Homo sapiens: one gene and its partners. The protein of the gene in region 1 interacts with the protein of each later gene in a biochemical or structural test. Each region holds a gene or a part of one and is shown in the gene's direction. Other genes may lie near its edges.

Region 1 (5,299 bases):
GCGATCCCGCAGCCGCTCCCTCCGGGGCTCCTCCCATTTATCCCAGTGGCTCAACAACTTTTTTGCCCTCCCCTTCTCCTCCATGGCTTCCCAGCTTGACATGTCTTCCGTGGTGGGGGCAGGGGAAAGCAGAGCCCAGACTCTTGGAGCAGGTGTTCCCCCTGGGGACTCTGTCAGAGGCTCCATGGAGGCCTCTCAAGTCCAAGTGCCTCTGGAAGCCTCTCCAATTACATTCCCACCACCCTGTGCCCCAGAAAGGCCCCCCATCAGCCCAGTCCCAGGCGCCCGTCAAGCAGGCCTCTGAGAGTGCTACCCTTCTCTTGTAACCTTGCAGCCAACACCCCTGCCCGGCCCCTGAGCTGCCTCCTCCAGCCCATGCTCTTACAGGCCCTGCACAGAGTAGCACTCATTAATTCTTGGTTAAGGAATGAATCAACGAATGAATGGCTATGCATGGACCTCTGGGCAGGGAGACCTGGGTCTTCTCTGGCTGAGAGGGGAAGGCTAAGGCATGGCTGAGATTCAAGCCACCATTCCAGGCCTCTTTGCCCAAGAAAGAAACTTCTGTCACCCTTGCACTCTCCTGTATTCTGAGTCCCTGGCCAATAGCACAGCCTTCCATGCCCCGACCCCCACCCCAAGCCTCTCCACTAGGCCTCTGCCAGGATCTAAGCCCATGAGCACAGGGACTGGCTATCCCAAGACCTGGCAGATGTGGCTGCTCAATAAACACTTGTTGAACCATCACCCTTGCGAACCCTTATTCCACGACCATCGCGTTCTCCGATGGATCCAGCTCCTCCCTGCAGGCTGTTCTCTCTTCCCTATGCTGGAACTCAGTTCTCCTCTGGGGATACCATGTCCCCTCTTCCTCCCACACTCATGGGCATCAGAGGTGGGAGGTAGGGTCAAGGCCCCCTGCTTCCTGGACTGTTCCAGCCCCTTCCTGGCCGTCTGGTAAGATCCTCTGTCCCTCTCAGGGTGGGCCCCATGCTCCCCAGCTCATCCCAGACACCCACCTGCCCACCCTCATTGAGGGCAGACGTGAGCATTCACCTCCCAGATTTCTTCTCCCTGCTCAGGTCCTGCCTTCCTCCTGAGTGACTTCTATTTCCACCCACCTGCCCGCCACTCCTTAACCTCTCAGGGGTTGTCACCCCATTCCCCCAGACAGCTGCCTGCCCCGTGGCCGTGCCCTGCACCTTGCCATCACCGAGCACTGTCGGTCCCTCAGCCGGTCCTCTCAGACTCTGACCGCAGCCTCCTGTTCCTTGAGCTCTCAGTCCTACCTTCGCCTCCCTCCAGCCCCGCGCACTCCCCATTTCATCCCATCTTTCATCAGAATTGCAGCTCCCTGCCCAGCAGAAAATCCTGGAAGGACTCAGGAGCTTGTCGCCTCTGTGCTGCCACCTGGAGACCGAGATCTGCAGGAGAAAGGCCTGGGAAAACTATGAGTGGTTGCCTGTGACTGCTAAGGGCTCCTTGGTGCTCCGCCCAGCATGTCCTTTTGCTCTGCAGGGCAGCCCCCGCCTGCCTTTCTTCACTGGGCCCTTGTCCCAGCCTCACCCTCAGCTGATGGCGGCACCTTCTGCTCCAGGGAGAAAACAGGAGCTCTCCAATGGCATAGGGACAGTTGACATCTTGCTATTTACAGATCCCCATCGCACCCCTTCCCTGCCCTCGTTAGGGTGGAAGGGATGTCCACCTGCCTCCAGGACTCACCCTGTGTCCTGGCCCCAGCCCTTGACCCCCTGGGAGCCTCACTCCTCCTCCTCATCTCTCTTGCATCTTCTAATGTATCCACTGCCTTCTGAACTAAACACCCTGAATGAGGTCTTTCTCATCTCAGAAAACTCCACCCACTTCTCTCTCCAGCTGTCGGCTCCCCTTCCTCTGCTCTCCTTGTTTACACTTCAGCCCCCTCCTTGCCCCTTCTTCACCCCACCTCCTGCGCTTCCCCGCCAGTACCAGGGTGGCCTCTGTGCCTCTAGGTGCAGTGTCGCGTTTAGTCGTTATTATTCTTGACCGGCGCTGGGCCCGGTCTTTCCTGGAAAGATCGCCTGCTCGGATGCAGCTCTGGGCACTCCTCCCTCTCCTCTGCAGGCTCTGTTTTTTCTTGGTTGTGGTGCTCCTGCAGGTTTGCTGCTGGGCCCTTTCCTCTTTTCAGTCTGTGTATTCTCCCAGGTGCTCTCAGCCACGCCCCTGACTTCAGTTACTGCCCAGGGGTAGCTGATACCCAACACTCGCACCTGCCTGCCAGACCAGCATGGCCAGTGACCTTCCAACAGCTCCGCATGGATGCCCATAGGTACCTCAAACTCAGCACCTTCTCCTCCCGTCTCACTGGCTCGCCCCACTCTCTGCCCGGTTGCACAAGCCAAGACCCCATAGCCACCCAGGGCACCCCCCTTTTGATTATTCCTCACATCCAACCAGTTATTGAGTCTTGTCTTTCTAGGGTGTAAATTCCTCTGAAATCTGGGCACTTCTTTCCATCCCATAATCTTGGTAAAATTAAAGCTACCACTGACCCTGGGTAGAGGCAGAAGCCTGGGAAGGAAAGGTGGAGAACAGGTTTGGAGTGCCAACAGTGTCCCCAGATGTCATGGAGAATCAAGTAGAGGGACCCCAGCAATATTGGGGGTGGGGCGGGGAGTATGTAATGCTCAGCTATCAGCAAGGAGTCATTAGGGGCTATACAGTGAATTAAGGGAGGGGGTAAAAGCACATTTCAGGTGATGATGAATTAAATACCTAGGAGCTCACATTAGAGAGCAGGCCTAGAGACGTGGGGAGAGAGCCAGAGGACCGCTGCTTTTGTGTATGTAGCTTTAAGACACAGGTTTTAAAAATTGTTATAGGAGTCCCAAACTTTAGAAAATATATATTTTAAAACCCCAACAAATTAGGTCCCCCCTATGCATTTCTCACCCAACTTCTGGGCCCTTTCCAGACCCCTGGTGCCCCCAGAGTACACCCAGCACCACCACTGCAAATTCCTACTCCCCAGCTTGGAGGGGGTGGGGTGATATTCCCAAGGTGATCCCGGCTCCCACCTAACCCATCCTCCCCAGCTCTGCAGCTTATATCCAGCTTTGCAGTGAGGAAAGTTGCAGAATACTGGTCTGCTACATTACTACTTTCCAAGTGTATCAGGGCATTTAGGAACCCCTCCCTTGAGCTTCACCTGTGTCCTAGGGATTCAGTGAGAGACTGTTTGTGCAAGAAGGAGCGAGAGGCAGCAGGGCATAGTCATGGGGTGGAGCAGTGAGTCCCCCAGGCCTGGTTGTGGAGTACCTGGGGTGAGGACTTTGCTTAAAAACTGCCAGAGTGGGTCAGCAGTGCGCCTGCCCTGGGGCCCCTGCTTTAGGATCCAAAGTGGAAAAGATAGGTGTTTTCACCCACTCTTGTGACAGATTACTGGCTCCGGTGCCTTGGTGGCAGCAGCAACAGGAGGGGGCCAAGGTGAGGGGGCAGCCTGTGGCAGAAGTGGCAGTGGTGACGGCGGAGGAAGGGAGGCCTGTGGGGAATGGCTGATCCAGGGGAGGGGCCGTGGCACTGGTGAGTGTGCATCTGAGAAAATGAAACGGAGGTGCTGGCCAAGAGGCTGGAGCTAGGCAGAAGGGCAGCAGAGGCCACAGGCTGGCCGAGTTTATGGTCCAGTTCACTCATAACATGTGCAGTATTCCTGGGGTCTTTGAGGCTTTGCAAGAGCTGGGGTTTTGTGTCTGCAGAAAGATAGCAATGCATGTGTCTTGCCAAACTGATCCCAGCTGTAGCTGATGCTTAAGTGCTCAGAAAGTTCTTCAGGAGCTTGAGGGCTCTTGATAAGCATGAATGTCAGATGTTCTGTATCTTCCAGAGGCTGGATGCTGACTATCAGAGTTTGGCTTGTGTTTGGCTGATGAGCAAACCTGGAATGAATCAGTGATAAGGACAATTGTTCTCAAGCTGGCTGTACACTGGGGAGTTTTCCCAACTACAGATTCCTAGGTCCTACGCCCTGAGATTCTAATCGAATCAGTCTTGGGTGCAGCCTGGGCCTCAGTTTTTTCTTAAAGCTATGAATGCCTAACCAAAGTCAAGAACCACTGAATCGGGGGATTCATTGCATGTCTGTGGTAGAGGAATGCTGCTCATTTGTTTATAGATGTGGCAGTCTTGAATGCAGGTGACATTTTCATACCAGGGTGTAATACCGCAGAGGAGGGGAGAGGCTGGATCTTCCCTGATGTACCTCCTGGACTTTTGGAGTGTGATTACAATGCCAATCCAGCCACTTCCTCTGAGCATGCTTGGGACGACTGTTAGACCTGCTGTGTTGAGTTAGAATGCACTTGACCTGCTCAGGCCGTGAAATCTATGAGGAAGGGGAGTGAGATGGATGTAGCTCATGAGCCAGATTGCAGGTGTATCCAAGTTGCATGTATATCCTGAAAAAATCCTGGCTCTCACGAGGCTCAGCCTGAACACAGTTTTGCATTCAAAGAAACAATGTCCATTAACCAAGTATAATAAAGAAATAAATCCCAGTATTTACTTGCATCTTTTGAAAGAACATTAAAGGGAATCCAGCTCATAACCCCAGCAGCACTTCTTCAGTCCTTCTTCCCCTTTTCTTTGGCGCCTGGCATCTCTCACTGCATAGCAAAGCTTTCCCCCTTGATTCCCGGTCCTCACACGCAGGCTCAAGGCTCTGTTTCCCATCTTCTTTCTTCTGTCCCCCTTCCTTTTCTCTTCCAAGCAAATCTAAGTCTTTTCCAGTGACTGTCCCTCTCTATGCTCCCCCGACACCCAGTTATCCTAATTTGCGGAATAAGGCCAAGGTGTGGGGCCTGGGGGCAGAATGGGAGAGTCTCCCCTAGTGAGCAGGGAGGGGAGTATGTTCTGCACCAGGCCACTATGTCTGATGGCCCTGCTGGCAAACCTGAGTCTTTCAGAAAGTCTTGTTTAAATGCGTCAGCACTCCCCAGCTGTGATGCTGGAGTTTAAGGCGGAGCAGGGGAGAATTCTGGGTTTACAGCTGGCTGGAGTTCCAGTGAGACCAGCTCCATGGGTGGCCATACTTTATGGAAGTCCCCAAGGGCAAGAGGAATTTTGGAGGAAGTGAGTCAGGGCTGAAAGGTCCAGCCTCTCCTCCATTAACAAGCTTGGTGGAAAGGGGGTGTCCTTTTATTAAAGGAGACAGTAGAGGTTTCTTAGAGAAGGCAGCTCGAGTAAGTTTAGGACAAAGGACATTTCCCTGGCCCCGGGACAATGGAAGGCTCTAAAAACGAGGTTCTAGTGGCTGCCATAAATG
Region 2 (4,685 bases), on another chromosome or scaffold:
ATTACAATTATGAATGGAGGATATTCTACTGTACTTTTTTAAAAAGAAACTATTTTTGTGTTTGAAAGTGAAACCAACATCCAGATCTATAGCAGAGTCCTTATTCTTCTCATAAATCTTTTTACTTTGGCTACAAATAGATGATGGTATGATTCTATTATATATTTTATATAAAATCCATCCAAATTAAGTTTTGGGTAAGTGTGTTGTTTAATCTGAACTATAGTAACTTAATACTCTAAACAATAGTTCACTCCATTTGGTCCTTTCTCCACAGATGTAATTATGTTTTCAACTCAGGAACTATGGCAAGGAACTTTCCCCAGATCAAATTCTATTAACGCTGAGATACAAGTCATCCATGCACAGCCACTATCATACCCTTTATTCTCACTGAAAGGCAGAACTCAGAACCTGTTATTTTATGTCTGTAATCATGTACTTTGGCATCTTTTGGAGGAAAGGGGCAGGATAACTCACTGGAATGTACAGTATTTTGCTAGTGCATTTCAAGGAATGGAATCTTCTCCAGTATGAAATTACCAGATATAAAATAATGTAATGATGCTGAGGATATAAGCTTTTAGAAGGTAATTTGATGGTATTTCTTTCTCGAATGAAAAGCTGCTGGTTTACCCTCAACCCTATTCATTAGCATTACCATGAGTGAATTTATATCTAATTATTTCCACTTGCCCTGTTCTCTTCACACCAAGGAAGCTCCAGATCCAGTATCTTGTTTGGCCTCAAAACAGAAGCAGCTTCTTTTGTCTCCCAGCAGTAGTGAGCCACTCAGTCTCTTCCACAGGAAGTTTGGAGCCTACATTCCTTGAGTCAGGAGCTTATTACAGAAAAACCCCGTTTCCCTGAACTTTTGGCTAACAGAAATTAATTTAACTGACATGCATATTGATTCTGAAATTTTTTTCCTAAGTTTTTTTCATTTTTTTGAATGAGTTTTTTAAATTTTTTAGATGACCAAAACTTGCAGGGCAGGGGATGCCCAGAAGAGTGGTGAGATAGTAAAACACTTATTCCCTCATCCTTTCAGGTTTTCAGGTTGCCCATTTATATTCATTTACATGTCATTTGACTGTCTCACTTTTTACCCAGAACAGTAACAACCCACACCGTCTTCCTTCAGGGATTTCCAACTGGCACTCTGTGGGTGCTACACAGAATGCAATTTAATGGATATTTCTCAGCCTGGTTCAGAATAAATTGATCCTTTGATCCCAGAAAGTATATACTGAAGTGTGGGATAAAGATTATGATTAGGGGAGGGTTGGAGACAAAAGCTGTAAATTACTATGGCTGATTTATTTCTACTATATACATATATATTTTTTGCTTTTGTATATCCTATATAGGAAACTAAGCATTGTATTTTTTTTAACAAATCTAAAAAAGCACTATGAACTACAGGTGTTTGACTTTCAAAATATATTTTGTATTGTTAATATCTTCACATTGTGTGAATACTGGAAGCTGCAGATCTTTGCTAGGACGCAATAAATTTATATACTTTTTGAGGGGTTCTTCTGGGGTGCTAATCAGGCCCCTGTTATGCTTAGGGGGAGCCCTGGTGCTACTTGCTTGAAGTTTTCAGTGTAAGTACCCTGATGCCTTTTGGACCTTGGGATCAGATCAAGAGTTTTGGAGATCAGGTACCAAGGAAATAAGGACAGTCTAGCTGCCTCAAGTGAGGGGCCCTTTGCATAGCTCTCCTTCCCCCTCACTGAAGCTGGGTAGCCTATTGGGGTTGAGAGGGAAAATGTGAAATCTCAGAATTTATCTCCCTTAGAAGAGAGCCAGTAACTTATGTACAAGGATGAAAGAAAGGTCGCAGCAGTAGCTTTGGGGAAAGGGAGGAAGATATGGCACTTCTCCAACCCCGGAAAACATTGCTTTTGAAAACTGCTGATAAAATATGAGCCGGTTATTACTTCTGTTTGGGAGACTGTGCTCTCTGTGGTGCCTCTCTTGGCTCTACTCCACAGATACCAGACCTCTTCTAAGAGGATGAGCAGACCAGCTTTGAGGTTGACCTGTTTCTCTTTGTCTGCCTTCCCAAAACACCAGCCCCCAGGAAGACATTAAGCAGCCTTAAGCTTAAATTCCTACTCCCTCTTCCAAATTTGGCTCACTTGCCTTAGATCCAAGGCAGGGAAAGGAAAAGAAGGGGGGTCTCTGGCTTTATTACTCCCCTAAGTCTTTACTCTGACTTCCCCAAACCCAGAAAGATTTTCTCCACAGTGTTCATTTGAAAGAGGAGTATTTTGTCCCATTTTCCCCTTCCTCATTATCAAACAGCCCCAGTCTTCCTTGTCTCTGCTAAGAAAGTAGAGGCATGATGATCTGCCTCTCAACTGCCCTAAGTCCTAGCTAAGTATCAGGGGAAAAAAAAAAAAAAAAAGCCTAACAAATGGGATTAGACTAGGGCTGCAAGTAGTGAGGATTTTGTTGATACCTCTGCTGGGATGTGTGCTTTCCCATATCTTGCCTTCAGGAATTACACTGTGCCTTTTCCCCAGGGATATGGGCTCTGTCTACCCAGTGCTCCAGTTTCCCGGTAACTGCTCTTGAACATTGTGGACAAGGGCAGGTCTTCATATTTTTGATCATCCCTTTCTCCCAGTGAAATCCCATAGCCCTTACCTAGAGTCTAGGGCACAAAGACTTCGGGGAAGATACACTGAGATTGACCTGAGGAGACATCTACACACACCAGTGGCAGCTGCCCCAGGGCCTGCTTCCCCTTCCTAAGTCTGTCATCCTCTGGAAGGGATGGGTGGTGCTCCAATCTCTGGTGCCTAAAAACCCAAGTTTATTTCTCTCTTAACACTGGCAATAACCAGTCCACACCACTGTTGCCTTTTAAAACCTCTTAATAATCTCATGCTGTGTTTGTTTTGATTCCAATCCAATTATCACCAGGGCTGTGTGGGTAAATGCTTTTAAATGCTCTCTCATCTTGTTCTTCCCCCTCACCCCCCACTCTTAGGTATGTATGATGCTAATCTTGTCCCTAAGTAAGTTTCTTCCTGCTCCTTTTGTATCTTCCTTTCTTGTCTTTCCTCCTACCTTTTGTCTCTTGGTGTTTTGGGACTTTTTTTTTTTTTTTTTTGGCCTTTTGTACAAAGATTAGTTTCAATGTAGTCTGTAGCCTCCTTTGTAAACCAATTAAAAAGTTTTTTAATAAAAAACCATGTCTCTGGTGTATTGAAGAGGGTTGGGAATGGTGAGAGTGTACGTTTGTAACTTCATACTCTGAACCTAACAAAGGTTTCCAGCTACACTGTGTTGTGCTCCATACATGTTAATTAGTGCAATTGCCCTATATTTAACTCCCGGGTAAATGGTTTCATGACCAGATCAATGTGCCACAACTACACGGAAATGTGGAGGACCAAGACAAACAGGCAACACTAACTTTATTTTTTTTCTCATATGCTTTTTTATTTTGGAATAATTTTAGATTTACAGAAAAGTTGTAAAGCTAGAACAGAGTTTCCATATAATCCTTACCCGTTTCCCTCATTGTTAACATATTACCATGGTACATTGTCAAAATTAAGAAACTGACATCGTGGCCAGGTGTGGTGGCTCACGCTTGTAATCCCAGCACTTTGGGAGGCTGAGGTGGGTGGATCACGAGGTCAGGAGATCGAGACCATCCTGGCTAACACGGTGAAACTGTCTACTAAAAATACAAAAAATTAGATGGGCGTGGTGGCGGGCATCTGTAGTCCCAGCTACTTGGGAGCTGAGGCTGGAGAATGGCGTGAACCCGGGAGGCGGAGCTTGCAGTAAGCCGAGATTTCACCACTGCACTCTAGCCTGGGCGACAGAGCAAGACTCCGTCTCAAAAAAAAAAAAGGTTTGTCTCTTCTCCCTCATTTGTTTAGTCAATTTATATTAGTATGTATTAATGTGTATTTATTTTATACATGGATTATAATCCATTACTATTTTGTTGCTCAGATTTTCCCAGCTACAGTCATTGTTATCTTTTGTCAGCCTATAAGCATGTTCTGGCTGGGCGCGGTGTCTCACCCCTGTAATCCCAGCACTTTGGGAGGCTTAGCTGGGTGGATCACTTGAGGTCAGGAGTTTGAGACCAGGCTGGCCAACATGGTGAAACACTGTCTCTACTAAAAATACAAAAACGTAGCCGGGCGTGGGGGCAGGTACCTGTAATCCCAGCTACTTGGGAGGCTGAGGGAAGAGAACTGCTTGAACCGGGAGGCGGAGGTTGCAGTGAGCCAAGATCACGCCATTACACATTGCCTGGGCAACGAAGCGAGACTCTCAAAAAAAAAAAAAACATGTTCAAGTATTCCCCCTTCCCCCATTTTAAAAAACCTCAGCTTCCTCTTCAAGCTACTGATTAGTTTTTTCCATTTCCAAAGTTAGTGAAAGTAGTTTACACTCATTTTTCTCTTCCTTTATTGAATCCTCAGGCTACTTTGTGGGTTTGCTTTTGTTTGTTTTTTTTGTTTTTGTTTTTTGGGATGGAGTCTTGCTCTGTCACTCAGGCTGGAGTGCAGTGGCACGATCTCAGCTCACTGCAACCTCCACCTCCTGGGTTCAAGCAATTCTCTTGTTTCCGCCTCCCAAGTAGCTGGAATTACAGGCACGCGCCACCATGCCCGGCTAATTTTTGTATTTTTAATAGAGACGGG
Region 3 (5,299 bases), on another chromosome or scaffold:
ATCGCTCAGGCTGGAGTGCAGTGGCATGATCTTGGCTCACTGTAGCCTCCACCTTCCAGATTCAAGCAATTCTCCTGCCTCAGCCTCCCGAGTAGCTGGGATTACAGACATACACCACAACGCCCGGCTAATGTTGGTTTGTTTGTTTGTTTGTGACGGAGTTTTGCTCTTGTTGCCCAGGCTGGAGTGCAGTGGCACAATCTCAGCTCACTGCAACCTCCATCTCCCGGGTTCAAGCGATTCTCCTGCTTCAGCCTCCCCAGTAGCTGGGATTACAGGTGCCTGCCACCATGCCGGGCTAATTTTTTATATTTTTAGTAGAGATGGGGTTTCACTGTGTTGGCCAGGCTGGTCTTGAACTCCTGACCTCAGGTGATCCACCCCACCTTGGCCTCCCAAAGTGCTGGGATTACAGGTGAGAGCCACCGTGCTTAGCCCTTTTAAAAATGTTTAAAAATTATTATTTAGTCCTTTCAATGACCCTAAGGTAGGAACTGTTATCTCCATTTTGCAGGTGAGAACACCAAGGCCCAGGGAAGATATATCACATTTGAACCCAGATTCAGATTTGAATCCAGGTGGCCTGGCTGCTGAGTGCATGGTTTGAGTCACTCCCTGTCCCCCAGCTTCCTCTGTTCCATCACTCTGGGTTATTTTCCTCCTTGAAGTTATCAGGGATTGATACTATCCTGTGTTTCATTTGCTTGTTTAGCACCTGTCTGCTCTCACCTAGAATGTTAGCTCTCTAAGGGCAGGGACTGTATCCTGCCACATTGGCCCACGTCTGGAGAGCCTGTGGCACATGGTGGATACACCATGGATTTGTTGAATGAAGGCGCCCCCTGCAAGCCAGGCCCTCACCCTGGCTTCTGGCTGTGGGCCCAGGGGTGTCCTGGGAGCACAACCCTAGCTGAATTCCTGCCTGCCCTCCCCTCCAGGCCGAGTGTACTACTTCAACCACATCACTAACGCCAGCCAGTGGGAGCGGCCCAGCGGCAACAGCAGCAGTGGTGGCAAAAACGGGCAGGGGGAGCCTGCCAGGGTCCGCTGCTCGCACCTGCTGGTGAAGCACAGCCAGTCACGGCGGCCCTCGTCCTGGCGGCAGGAGAAGATCACCCGGACCAAGGAGGAGGCCCTGGAGCTGATCAACGGTGAGCAGGGCGAGGGCAGGGGCTTGGGAGGGGGTCTTCTCCCAGGTGAGCCTTTGTAGAAGTCACATCAGACCCTTCACCCCAGCTTGCTCAGCTGCCAGGCGTGGTGTTGGCCAACACAAAAACGCCAGTGCATGACCTGACCCTGACCTTCACAGCAGCCATTCTCTTTCTTTTCCATCTGGCATTTGAGGGTGAGCCAGGTAGGGGCAGAGGACCCAGCCTGGGGGCTGGCAGACATGGGTTCAGGTAGTAGCTGTGCCTCTGTGAACTCTGTGACCTTTGGGAGGGGACTCGTGTCACCTCCCCTAGACTCAGCTTTCTCTGTAAAATGGGCATCCTCTAAGGACCATTGTGAAGGTTCAAGGGAATAAGGCAATGGATTTTGCACAGTAGGCCCTCAGTCTGTGGGAAGTGTTGTCAATAGTAATATCATCCACTAGGGGCCTGAGTCATAAACATAGGTGGATCCAGAGAGAGCAGTCAGGAAGGTAGTGAGTGCATGCAGGGTGCGGTGGCTCACGCCTGTAATCCCAGCACTTTGGGAGGCCTTGGAGGGCAGATCACCTGAGGTCAGGAGTTCAAGATTAGCCTGGGCAGTATGGTGAAACTCCATCTCTACTAAAAATACAAAGATTAGCCAGATGTGTTGACGCATGCCTGTAATCCCAGCTACTCGGGAGGCTGAGGCAGGGAGGCAGAGGTTGCAGTGAGCCGAGATCGCACCACTCCACTCCAGCCTGGGCAGCAAAGTGAGGCACCATCTCAAAAAAAAAAAAAAAAAAGAGGTAGTGAGTGCCAGTAGATAGTGAGTTAATTCTGACCTAAGGGAGGAAGCTATTCCCTGCTCTGTTCTGTGTTTCCTCTGCAGTCTGGCACCAAGGTGGCAAACTTTAAAGGCCAGATGGTAAATATTTTAGGTTTTGTGGGCCATGCAGTCTCTATCAGCTCTGCTTTGTAACTGGATAGCACTCATAACTAATATGTAAGCAAGCACATGGTCATGGCTGTGTGCCAAGAAAACTTTACTATTTACAAAATCTGGGAGGATTTGGCCTGCAGGCCATCATTTGCAGAGCCCTGTCTAAAGCTGTCCAGTTTGGCTGCCACTCCCACCCTGTGCGGGAGGATCACTTGAGCCCAGGAGTTTGAGACCAGCTTGGGCAACATAGCAAAACCCCGTCTCTAAAAAAATAAAAAAATTAGCTGGACATGGTGGTGCACGCCTGTAGTGTCAGCTACTTAGAAGACTGAGGTGGGAGGATCCTTTGAGCCCAGGAGGCAGAGGTTGTAATGAGCCGAGATCACACTACCGCACTCCAGCCTGGGTGACAGAGCAAGACCCTGTCTCAAAAATAAATAAGATAATATCAAAAATTGGTTTCTCAATTGCACTGGTCATACTTTAGCTGGTGGCTGCCATCTTTGACAGCGGGAATATAAAACATTTACATTCTTGGCCGGGCGCGGTGGCTCACGTCTGTAATTCCAGCACTTTGGGAGGCCAAGGTGGGTGGATCACGAAGTCAGGAGATCGAGACCATCCTGGCTAACACGGTGAAACCCTGTCTTTACTGAAAATCCAAAAAAATTAGTCTGGCATGGTGGCGGGCACCTGTAGTCCCAGCTACTCGGGAGATAGGCAGGAGAATGGCATGAACCCGGGAGGTGGAGCTTGCAGTGAGCTGAGATCGTGCCACTGCACTCCAGCCTCGGCAACAGAGCGAGACTCCGTCTCAAAAAAACAAAAACAAAAACAAAAAAAAACACTTTTCCATTCTTGCAGTAAGTTGTGTCTGATGCCTTTCTCAGAGTCCCCAAACCTGGGCTGTCCCTACTCCAAACAACCCATCTCTCAACCATGCCCAGACAGCCTGGGTTGCTATGCAGCTCTGCCACGTCCTGGCTATGTGCTCTTGAGCAAGTTACTTAACATCTCTGGGCTTCAATCTTTTTCTCCTTCTTCTTTTGAGACAGGGTCTTGCTCTGTCACCCAGGCTGGAGTGCAGTGTTCATAGCTCACTGCAGCCTCAACCTCCTTGGGATCAGGTGATCCTCCCACCTCAGCCTCCCAAGTAGCTGGGACTGCAGGCTCATAACACCACACCTGGCTGATTTTTGTATTTTTAGTAGAGACAGGACTTCACCATGTTGCCTAGGATGGTCTCAAACTCCTGGCCTCAAGTGATCCTTCCACCTCAGCCTCCCGAAGTGTTGGGATGACAAGCATGAACCACCGCCCCCAGCTGTCAGTCTTTTTCATTTATAAAATTAGTATTAGAATAATAAGACCCACTTCACAGGGTAGTTGTGAGGACTCCTGGCTAATACAGTAAAGCGGGAGTAACAGCTCCTGGCATCGGTAAATGTTCTGTCATTGTTAGTGGTCACTGTCATTGCTGTTGTTGGTTGTGGTAGCACAGGGCCCAGCACAGAGTGTACACTCGGTCAGTATTGGCTGTTGTTTTACTCTCTCATCACTTGGTCCAGTTGGCCTGTAGGATGTTATTACATATGCACACCCCCAACATGGCATCTAGGACAGTAAGTGCCACCCGTTAGTCTTATATGTAAGCATGGCAGAGAGAAGCCGAGTTCTTGCACAGAATCTTGAAGGCTGATTGAAGAGCCAGCCTCCTGACCTCTGAGGGCAGGGACTGGATCTCTCTCTTTCCCCTGTATTCCCATCCTGCCACACAAAGCCTGGCCCAGAGTCAGCCCTCACAGCCTTGTTTCATGAGCCAGTAGGAAGCAAGAAGGATTCCTGGCACAGGACGGGGCAGAAGTAAAGGCCTAGGACTAGGATGTAGCCAGAACTCTGGGGAAGGCTTTGCAGGGAGCTAGGGGGTGATGAGACCCTTCACGGGCAGGTCCCAGCCAGGTTGAGGAGGGTCCTTGTCAGGTGAGGAGGTTTGGTTCTTTCCTGGAGGCAGCAGGACATATGTGGCCATGTGGGACCAGGAGAGGAACCCACAGTGCTCTGCTTTCAGCAGAGATCTGTGAAGCTAGAATGTCAAGGGCCAGGGAAGTGGAAGGCCCAGAACCTTCAGGGGTTCTGGTTGCCCCAGAGCAAGAAGAAGAAGTGGAGGGAGAAGCCAGGAGAGAATTGCAAGATGACCCTTCAGGTCCTCCCAGCTCTAGTGGTCTCTGTTCTGAGGCTTCCGGACCCTATAAGAGTGAGCAGGAGGGTGCAGGCATTTGGGGATGGAGCGGCATGAAGTGGGCTCCTGGGGGTCAGCAGAGCAGCCAGGCGCAGGACAGAGCTGCTCCAAGCAATCCTGATGAGAGCTGGCAGAAGGCTGAGGTCGGTGGGGATAGTGAGGAGGGCATGGGTCTGGGTGTGGTGGGCGAGGGTGTCTCGCCCATCTCTGGGTTGGACAGGTGCACCTGGTAAGTAGCCAGGCCCTGAGGCGTCACCGTAGGTACCTGCAGATTCTGGAATGTCAGCAGGAGCCTTGCCTGCCCACCTGGTGGAAGCTGTGGGAGGAATTGGAGCAAGAGGCGGTGTGACTTGAACTTGGGGGCTGGAAGTGGAAGAAGAAGTGAGAGGGAGCAGACCCGAGAGAGATTCAGGAGGCAGGATAGAGAGGACTGGGTGATGGATTAGGTGGGCAAGGGTGGGATGTCTGGGGGAGGGTCAGGGCAGAACAGCGTGGCCCACCCTGGGCTCGTACAGGGCTGGATTTCAGTGCCAGCTGTGTGGTCTTCATTTCCTGAGCCTCAGTTGCCTCATCTGTAGAATGGGGAGAGGGTGGCTATGAGGATCCAGGAGCTATGGGCTCAGTGGCTGGCGTGCTCTGCACGGTGGAGCCTCAGCCCCAGTCATTGGGGTGTGGACGATGGGGGAGCTGAGGTCAAGTCAAGGCCTCTGCTCACGGGCAGCCCCTGCTGCCACCCCACAGCCCGTAGAAAGAGTTCCGGATAGGACCACAGGAGGCCTGGTGGGCTCAGCACACAGATGATGACCTTGGCACACGACCTCCCTCTCCTGGTATCCTCCTGCCTGAGACGGTGCTGGGGCAGATCTCCTCAGAGGTCGATAGGAGGATGCAGTGAGGTGGCCCCGGCCGAGGTACACTCGGTAACAGATCATCATGTGCAGTGTCGGCGCAGGCATTGGGCACCTGGGCCTCATTTTCTCTTCCATG
Region 4 (5,299 bases), on another chromosome or scaffold:
CCTGACCAACAGTGGAGGAACCCCGGTTCTAATAAAATAGAAAAATTGGCCAAGCTTGATGGCGGGTGCCTGTAACCTCAGCTACTCTGGAGGCCAAGGTGAGGCGGGAGAATCACTTGAGCCCGGGAGGTGAAGGCTGCAGTGAGCCGAGATCCAGCCTGGGCACCACAGTGAAACTCCATCTCAAAAAATTAAAAAAGCAAAAAGTCAAGCCCCAAGCAGAAGAGCCCTGTAAGACGTATCGCTTGAGGAACTTCTGCGAAGCAGTCGCCAGGAAGCAGCCTGGGCCGAAAGGGGCGCTCAGCGGTCACCAGCAGGCGCAGCGTAGCACCACGGAGTGGCTGCCGTGCACCTCACCCGGTGGCTGGAATCCGCCAGCGACGCAGCCTGCGTGAGCAGCCTGGAAGCAGCACGGCTTGAGGGCCAACACCGTCACCCCACATTCCACAGCAGCGCGCTCACGCGTGTTCGCACTCAGGACAGCCACGCAGCTGCTGGTGTCGCCCGTGTGCTCCTGCGGTGTGGGATGGTCGCGGTGTGGGACGGTCTGCGGTGGTGTCTTCGCGTTCCCCAGGGAGTGTGCCCTGTGCATCTCCATGGTACCTGAAGTCCAGGAAGCTGCCTGCGGATGTTGCAGTTGGGATTACGGGGCAGATGCAGTGGTCGGTAGGAGCGAGTGTTCGGGGAAGCTGTAGGTGTTCGTGGCGCGTTGGCTTTCTGGTAATTCCTCCGGCTGCACTAGACATGCCGCACTGTGTGTCCTTCCGTAGCATTGAGAGAGAAGAGGGAGGATGCCCAGGTAAAAGATGGGAAATAGCCTAGAATATCAACTGTGATGGTCCCTGGTGGGGCTAATGGTGGCAAACTTTTCTGCTTTTTTGTAAAGAAATAACACAGGGTCCTAAAAGCCCGTATATCCTGGAAGCAGAGGGTCTGCGTCGGAACAGCCGACTCTGGAAGGGCGTTGGCTATGTCCCTGGACGTCTCCTGCAGCTCCTCCCATCTCCCCTGAGTCTGGCCCAGCTGGAAAGGATGTGGGGGCCACAGGTTAAGTGGCCACCCTGGGGCCTGTGTTCCCAGACTGCCTGGCTGTGCTGGGAGTTCTGTCCTGGGAGAGACACAGCTTCGTCTCGGCTGCGGCCGTGTCCCCAAGGCTCTGTTCCCTGTGTGCAAAGGTGGATATGTCTTCCTTTAGTCTCCTCATGGCCACAATTTAATTTTTTTGAAAAGTTTTTGGCCAAATAACCTGGCTACCAACCCGGGGCCCCAGTGTTGGGAGGAGGGTGATGTGGGGAAGGACGTGACTCTGGGACAGTGCCTGCCTCCAAAAAGTGCTTCCTTTCTTCCTCTTCCTCCAGGTAAATTCGAACCACCATTATTTCACCCGAATGTGTACCCTTCGGGGACAGTGTGCCTGTCCATCTTAGAGGAGGACAAGGACTGGAGGCCAGCCATCACAATCAAACAGGTACGGGGCCTCCGCCTCTGGCACCGGCAGGGCTGCCTTAGTCTCCCCTCCGGACACGTGGGTCTGTGGTCATTCTCTGTGGCTGAGGCCGAGTCTCACGGTGTCTCCCTTTCAAACTGCTCACACCCGTCTTGTGTTTTTGTCTCTGGCACAGATCCTATTAGGAATACAGGAACTTCTAAATGAACCAAATATCCAAGACCCAGCTCAAGCAGAGGCCTACACGATTTACTGGTTAGTAGCAGCCCTGGCCCCGCTGGTGGCAGCTCCTCCCCGTCCCAGCCAAGGCCGCCTGGCAGGACGGGAGTGGAGGACACAGGCTCACCCTACGGACAGCCAGGGTCCACGCCTCTGTGGGGAAGGTCGGGGGGCATAAACCCTGTGGGCAGCAGGCACCGTTGCACACCGTCTGCGGTGGGCATGGATGGCGCCGGAGCCGTGTCCCGGGGAGGGAGCAGGCCAGGTGACGGGCTGTCTTGGGCCACTGCCCCAGTGAGTTGTGGCCAGCTAGGAGGGGAAGGACCCTGGGCGTGGGTGCCAGAGGAGGCCATGCTGAGAGGCCTCTCCACCGGCTCAGCCTCCCATGGACCCCAGCCTCCCGCGCCGCCCTTGCTGCTTGTCCCCATCCCCTCTACAACTTGGTTCCTTCTGTGGGGGGGCCCAGCCCAGCAGGGCTCAGTGACGTGATGCTGTCACACGGACCCTGGGCTTCCACCCTGTCCCTGTGAGGTGCTGCTGTGGCTAGAAGGGTCCCCGTGGGCCTGGGGTCCTGTCTGCACCGAGGAGGGCCTGGTGTGAGTTAGGATGCAGACGACAGCCAAACAGTGCTGGGGAAAGCAGGGAGGACCCTGCCCTGAGCAGAGGCCATGCGCCCGCCTGTCCTGTTCCCTCTGCAGCTGTTCTGGGCAGGTCCATAAGAAGGTGGGTTGGGGCCTCCGACCCCCCACTGCTCCGCCTGCAGCGTTGAGAAACCCAGCCCCATCTCACCACGGGTCCCCACACCTCTGAGGGGGTCTCAGGGCCCCCAATGGCCAGGGACCCAGAAGGCTCACCTGCAGCCACCCCACACATCCCTGCCACTGTGGGCATCAGAGGCCCTCTCCCTCCAGGGTGCATCTCCTGGTCAGGAGGGGGGAGGCTGAGGGGTCCCGGTTGCCTTAGGCCCGGCCTGCACAGGTCGTGAGGAAAAGCACCTGGTTTCGGCCGGGCGCAGTGGCTCACGCTTGTAATCCCAGCACTTTGGGAGGCCGAGGTGGGTGAATCATGCGGTCAGGAGTTCGAGACCAGCCTGGCCAACATGGCGAAACCCTCGTCCCTACTAAAAATACAAAAAATTAGTTGGGCGTAGTGGTGGGTGCCTCTAATCCCAGCTACCTGGGAGGCTGAGACAGGAGAATCACTTGAACCCGGGAGGCGGAAGTTGCAGTGAGCCGAGATCCTGCCACTGCTCTCCAGCCTGGCGACGGAGGAATGCTGTCTCAAAAAAAAAAAAAGCACGTGGTTTTGGAGAGATGTGTTTCTCCCTGGATGCGGGCCCAGCCCAGGTGTCTGCAAGGTGCCCTCCCTGGTGGCCGAGGGTGGCACAGAGGCCCCAGGCAGGGAGCAAGTATCACAGCAGCCACCCCAGGCTCAGCCTGGCTCCCCTGCATGGTGGTGCACACCTGTAGTCCCAGCTATTTGGGAGGCTGAGGTGGGAGGACTGCTTGAGCCCAGGAGGTTGATGCGCAGTGAGTTGAGATTGCAGCACCGCAATCCAGCCTGCTTGACAAAGCGAGACCCTGTCTCAAAAAAAAAAAAAAACTCATAGCCGCTCAGTCAGCCAAGCCATTGCTGGAAGTGGCTCGTGGGACGTGGCGTGACCTGGGTTTGTGTGCTGGCCTGCTGTGCCCTAGGAGTCCGTGAAATGCATTCCCTTGGACAGGAAGCCACAGTGCTCGTGGGTGTCCACATGGCCCTTGAGGCAGAAAATGTTTTCTTTTTTTTTTTTTTTTTTTTTTTTAAACAGAGTCTCACTCTGTCGCCCAGGCTGGAGTGCAGTGGTGTGATCTCAGCTCACTACAACCTCTGCCTCCTGGGTTCAAGTGATTCTCCTGCCTCAGCCTCCCAAGTAGCTGGGATTACAGGCACCCACCACCACACCTGACTAATTTTTGTATTTTTAGTAAAGACAGTGTTTCACCACGTTGGCCAGGCTGGTCTCGAACTTCTGACCTCAGGTGATCCACCCGCCTCGCCTCCCAAAGTGCCGGGATTATAGGCATGAGCCACCGTGCCTGGAAAATGATTTCTAGGCCAAGTGTGGTGGCCCAACACCTGTAATCTCAACACTTTGGGAGGCCAAGGTGGGCTGATTGCTTGAACTCAGGAGTTCATGACTAGACTGGGCAACATAGCGAGACCCTATCTCTACAAAAAATTAAAAAATTTGCCAGGGGTGGTGGCTCATGCCTGTAATCCCAGCACTTTGCAAGGCCACTGTGGGACGTTACCTGAGCCCAGGAGTTGGAGACCAGCCTGGGCCACATGGCAAGACCTGCTCTCTTTAAAAAAAAAAAAAAAAAAAAAATTAAGCCGGGGATGATGGTGCATGCCTGTAGTCCCAGCTATTTGGGAGGCTGAGGTGGGAGGACTGCTTGAGCCCAGGTGGTTGATGCTGCAGTGAGCCAAGATTGCAGCCTGGGTGACAAAGTGAGACCCTGTCTCAAAAAAAAAAAAAAAAGCATGCCGGGCGCGGTGGCTCACGCCTGTAATCCCAGCACTTTGGGAGGCCAAGGTGGGCAGATCACGAGGTCAGGAGATTGAGACCATCCTGGCTAACACGGTGAAACCCCATCTCTAGTAAAAATAAAAAAAATTAGCCGGGCGTGGTGGCGCACACCTGTAACCCCAGCTACTCGGGAGGCTGAGGCAGGAGAATGGCTTGAACCTGGGAGGCGGAGCTTACAGTGAGCCGAGATCACGCCACTGCACTCCAGCCTGGGCAACAGAGCCAGACTCTGTCTCAAAAAAACAAAACAAAAGGCAAATGTTTTCCTGCCTAGCCCTTAGATGGTCTGCCATCCCCAGCATGGTGTGGGCGTGAGCTCTGTCTGGCCTGCACCCCATTTGCCGACCATCTCCAGAGCTGGGCTGTGGCTCCCATCTGCGGCGTGGGCTGGGCAGGGTTGCAGTCCCCCGCCCCGTGTGACTCTCCCCAGCGTCTCCTGGGCTTGGTGCCTGCTGGGCTGCACTGTACACTTGCGTGCACGTAAACAAACGTTCTTTCTCCTACACACATCCGCTTGAAAAGCACCCTTTGTGAAGCATGTGTGCGGGTTTCAGATCGTTTTTCCTGGGTTTCCTGGAGGCCTTGGACCGTGTTCCTGCCCTGGCAGGTGCCTTTTCTCGGGGCCTCTGCTTGGTCAAGGAAGAGCTGGGACGTGTAGCCACCGCCTCTGGTTCCTTCCACGCCCACCCAGCTGAGCTGCTCTGCCCTGGGGCCGGCTGGTGGCCCAAGGAGGGCGCTGGGGTCTGGGCTGCGGTCCAGGCCCTTGGCGTGGGTGGGGGTGGCACCGGCGCTGCTGCCGTCCTGGGCTGTTCCACCATGCAGAGTGAGGCTCAGTGTCTCAGACCAGGTCCAATCCTGGCGAGACTGGCAGGACTGCGACCCCAGGAGCCACCTCCATAAATGTCATGGTGTTCCCCCATCCTCAGGGTCACACTGCACCCTGTGACCCATCAGCCCCTAGGTGCAGCCTCGGCCGCCCTCCCGCCCACCTGTTTTGCCCGGGCAGTGTGTGCCATGCCACTCTCCTGGGCAGCTGCTTGCAGGCTGAGCCTCACTCTACCCAG

What was found. The genes of interacting proteins can lie anywhere in the genome.
Region 2: the proteins of PML (region 1) and SP1 form a complex in vitro, tested with the Homo sapiens proteins (2 studies listed by BioGRID, with this or other methods).
Region 3: the proteins of PML (region 1) and PIN1 form a complex in vitro, tested with the Homo sapiens proteins (2 studies listed by BioGRID and IntAct).
Region 4: of the proteins of PML (region 1) and UBE2I, one has a biochemical effect on the other in vitro, tested with the Homo sapiens proteins (13 studies listed by BioGRID, with this or other methods).

Annotation. Positions count from the first base shown.
Region 1 is NC_000015.10:74,035,648-74,040,946, forward strand, and holds part of PML (protein PML), read left to right. Parts: coding exon of another isoform or gene 1-304; exon of another isoform or gene 305-359; coding exon of another isoform or gene 360-413; exon of another isoform or gene 414-747; intron 748-5,299.
Region 2 is NC_000012.12:53,413,241-53,417,925, forward strand, and holds the end of SP1 (transcription factor Sp1), read left to right. Parts: 3' UTR 1-3,206; downstream 3,207-4,685. UniProt on the Homo sapiens protein: Transcription factor that can activate or repress transcription in response to physiological and pathological stimuli.
Region 3 is NC_000019.10:9,837,498-9,842,796, forward strand, and holds part of PIN1 (peptidyl-prolyl cis-trans isomerase NIMA-interacting 1), read left to right. Parts: intron 1-514; coding exon of another isoform or gene 515-578; intron 579-938; coding exon 939-1,151; intron 1,152-5,299. UniProt on the Homo sapiens protein: Peptidyl-prolyl cis/trans isomerase (PPIase) that binds to and isomerizes specific phosphorylated Ser/Thr-Pro (pSer/Thr-Pro) motifs.
Region 4 is NC_000016.10:1,318,816-1,324,114, forward strand, and holds part of UBE2I (SUMO-conjugating enzyme UBC9), read left to right. Parts: intron 1-1,358; coding exon 1,359-1,468; intron 1,469-1,622; coding exon 1,623-1,702; coding exon of another isoform or gene 1,703-1,844; exon of another isoform or gene 1,845-5,299. UniProt on the Homo sapiens protein: Accepts the ubiquitin-like proteins SUMO1, SUMO2, SUMO3, SUMO4 and SUMO1P1/SUMO5 from the UBLE1A-UBLE1B E1 complex and catalyzes their covalent attachment to other proteins with the help of an E3 ligase such as RANBP2, CBX4 and ZNF451.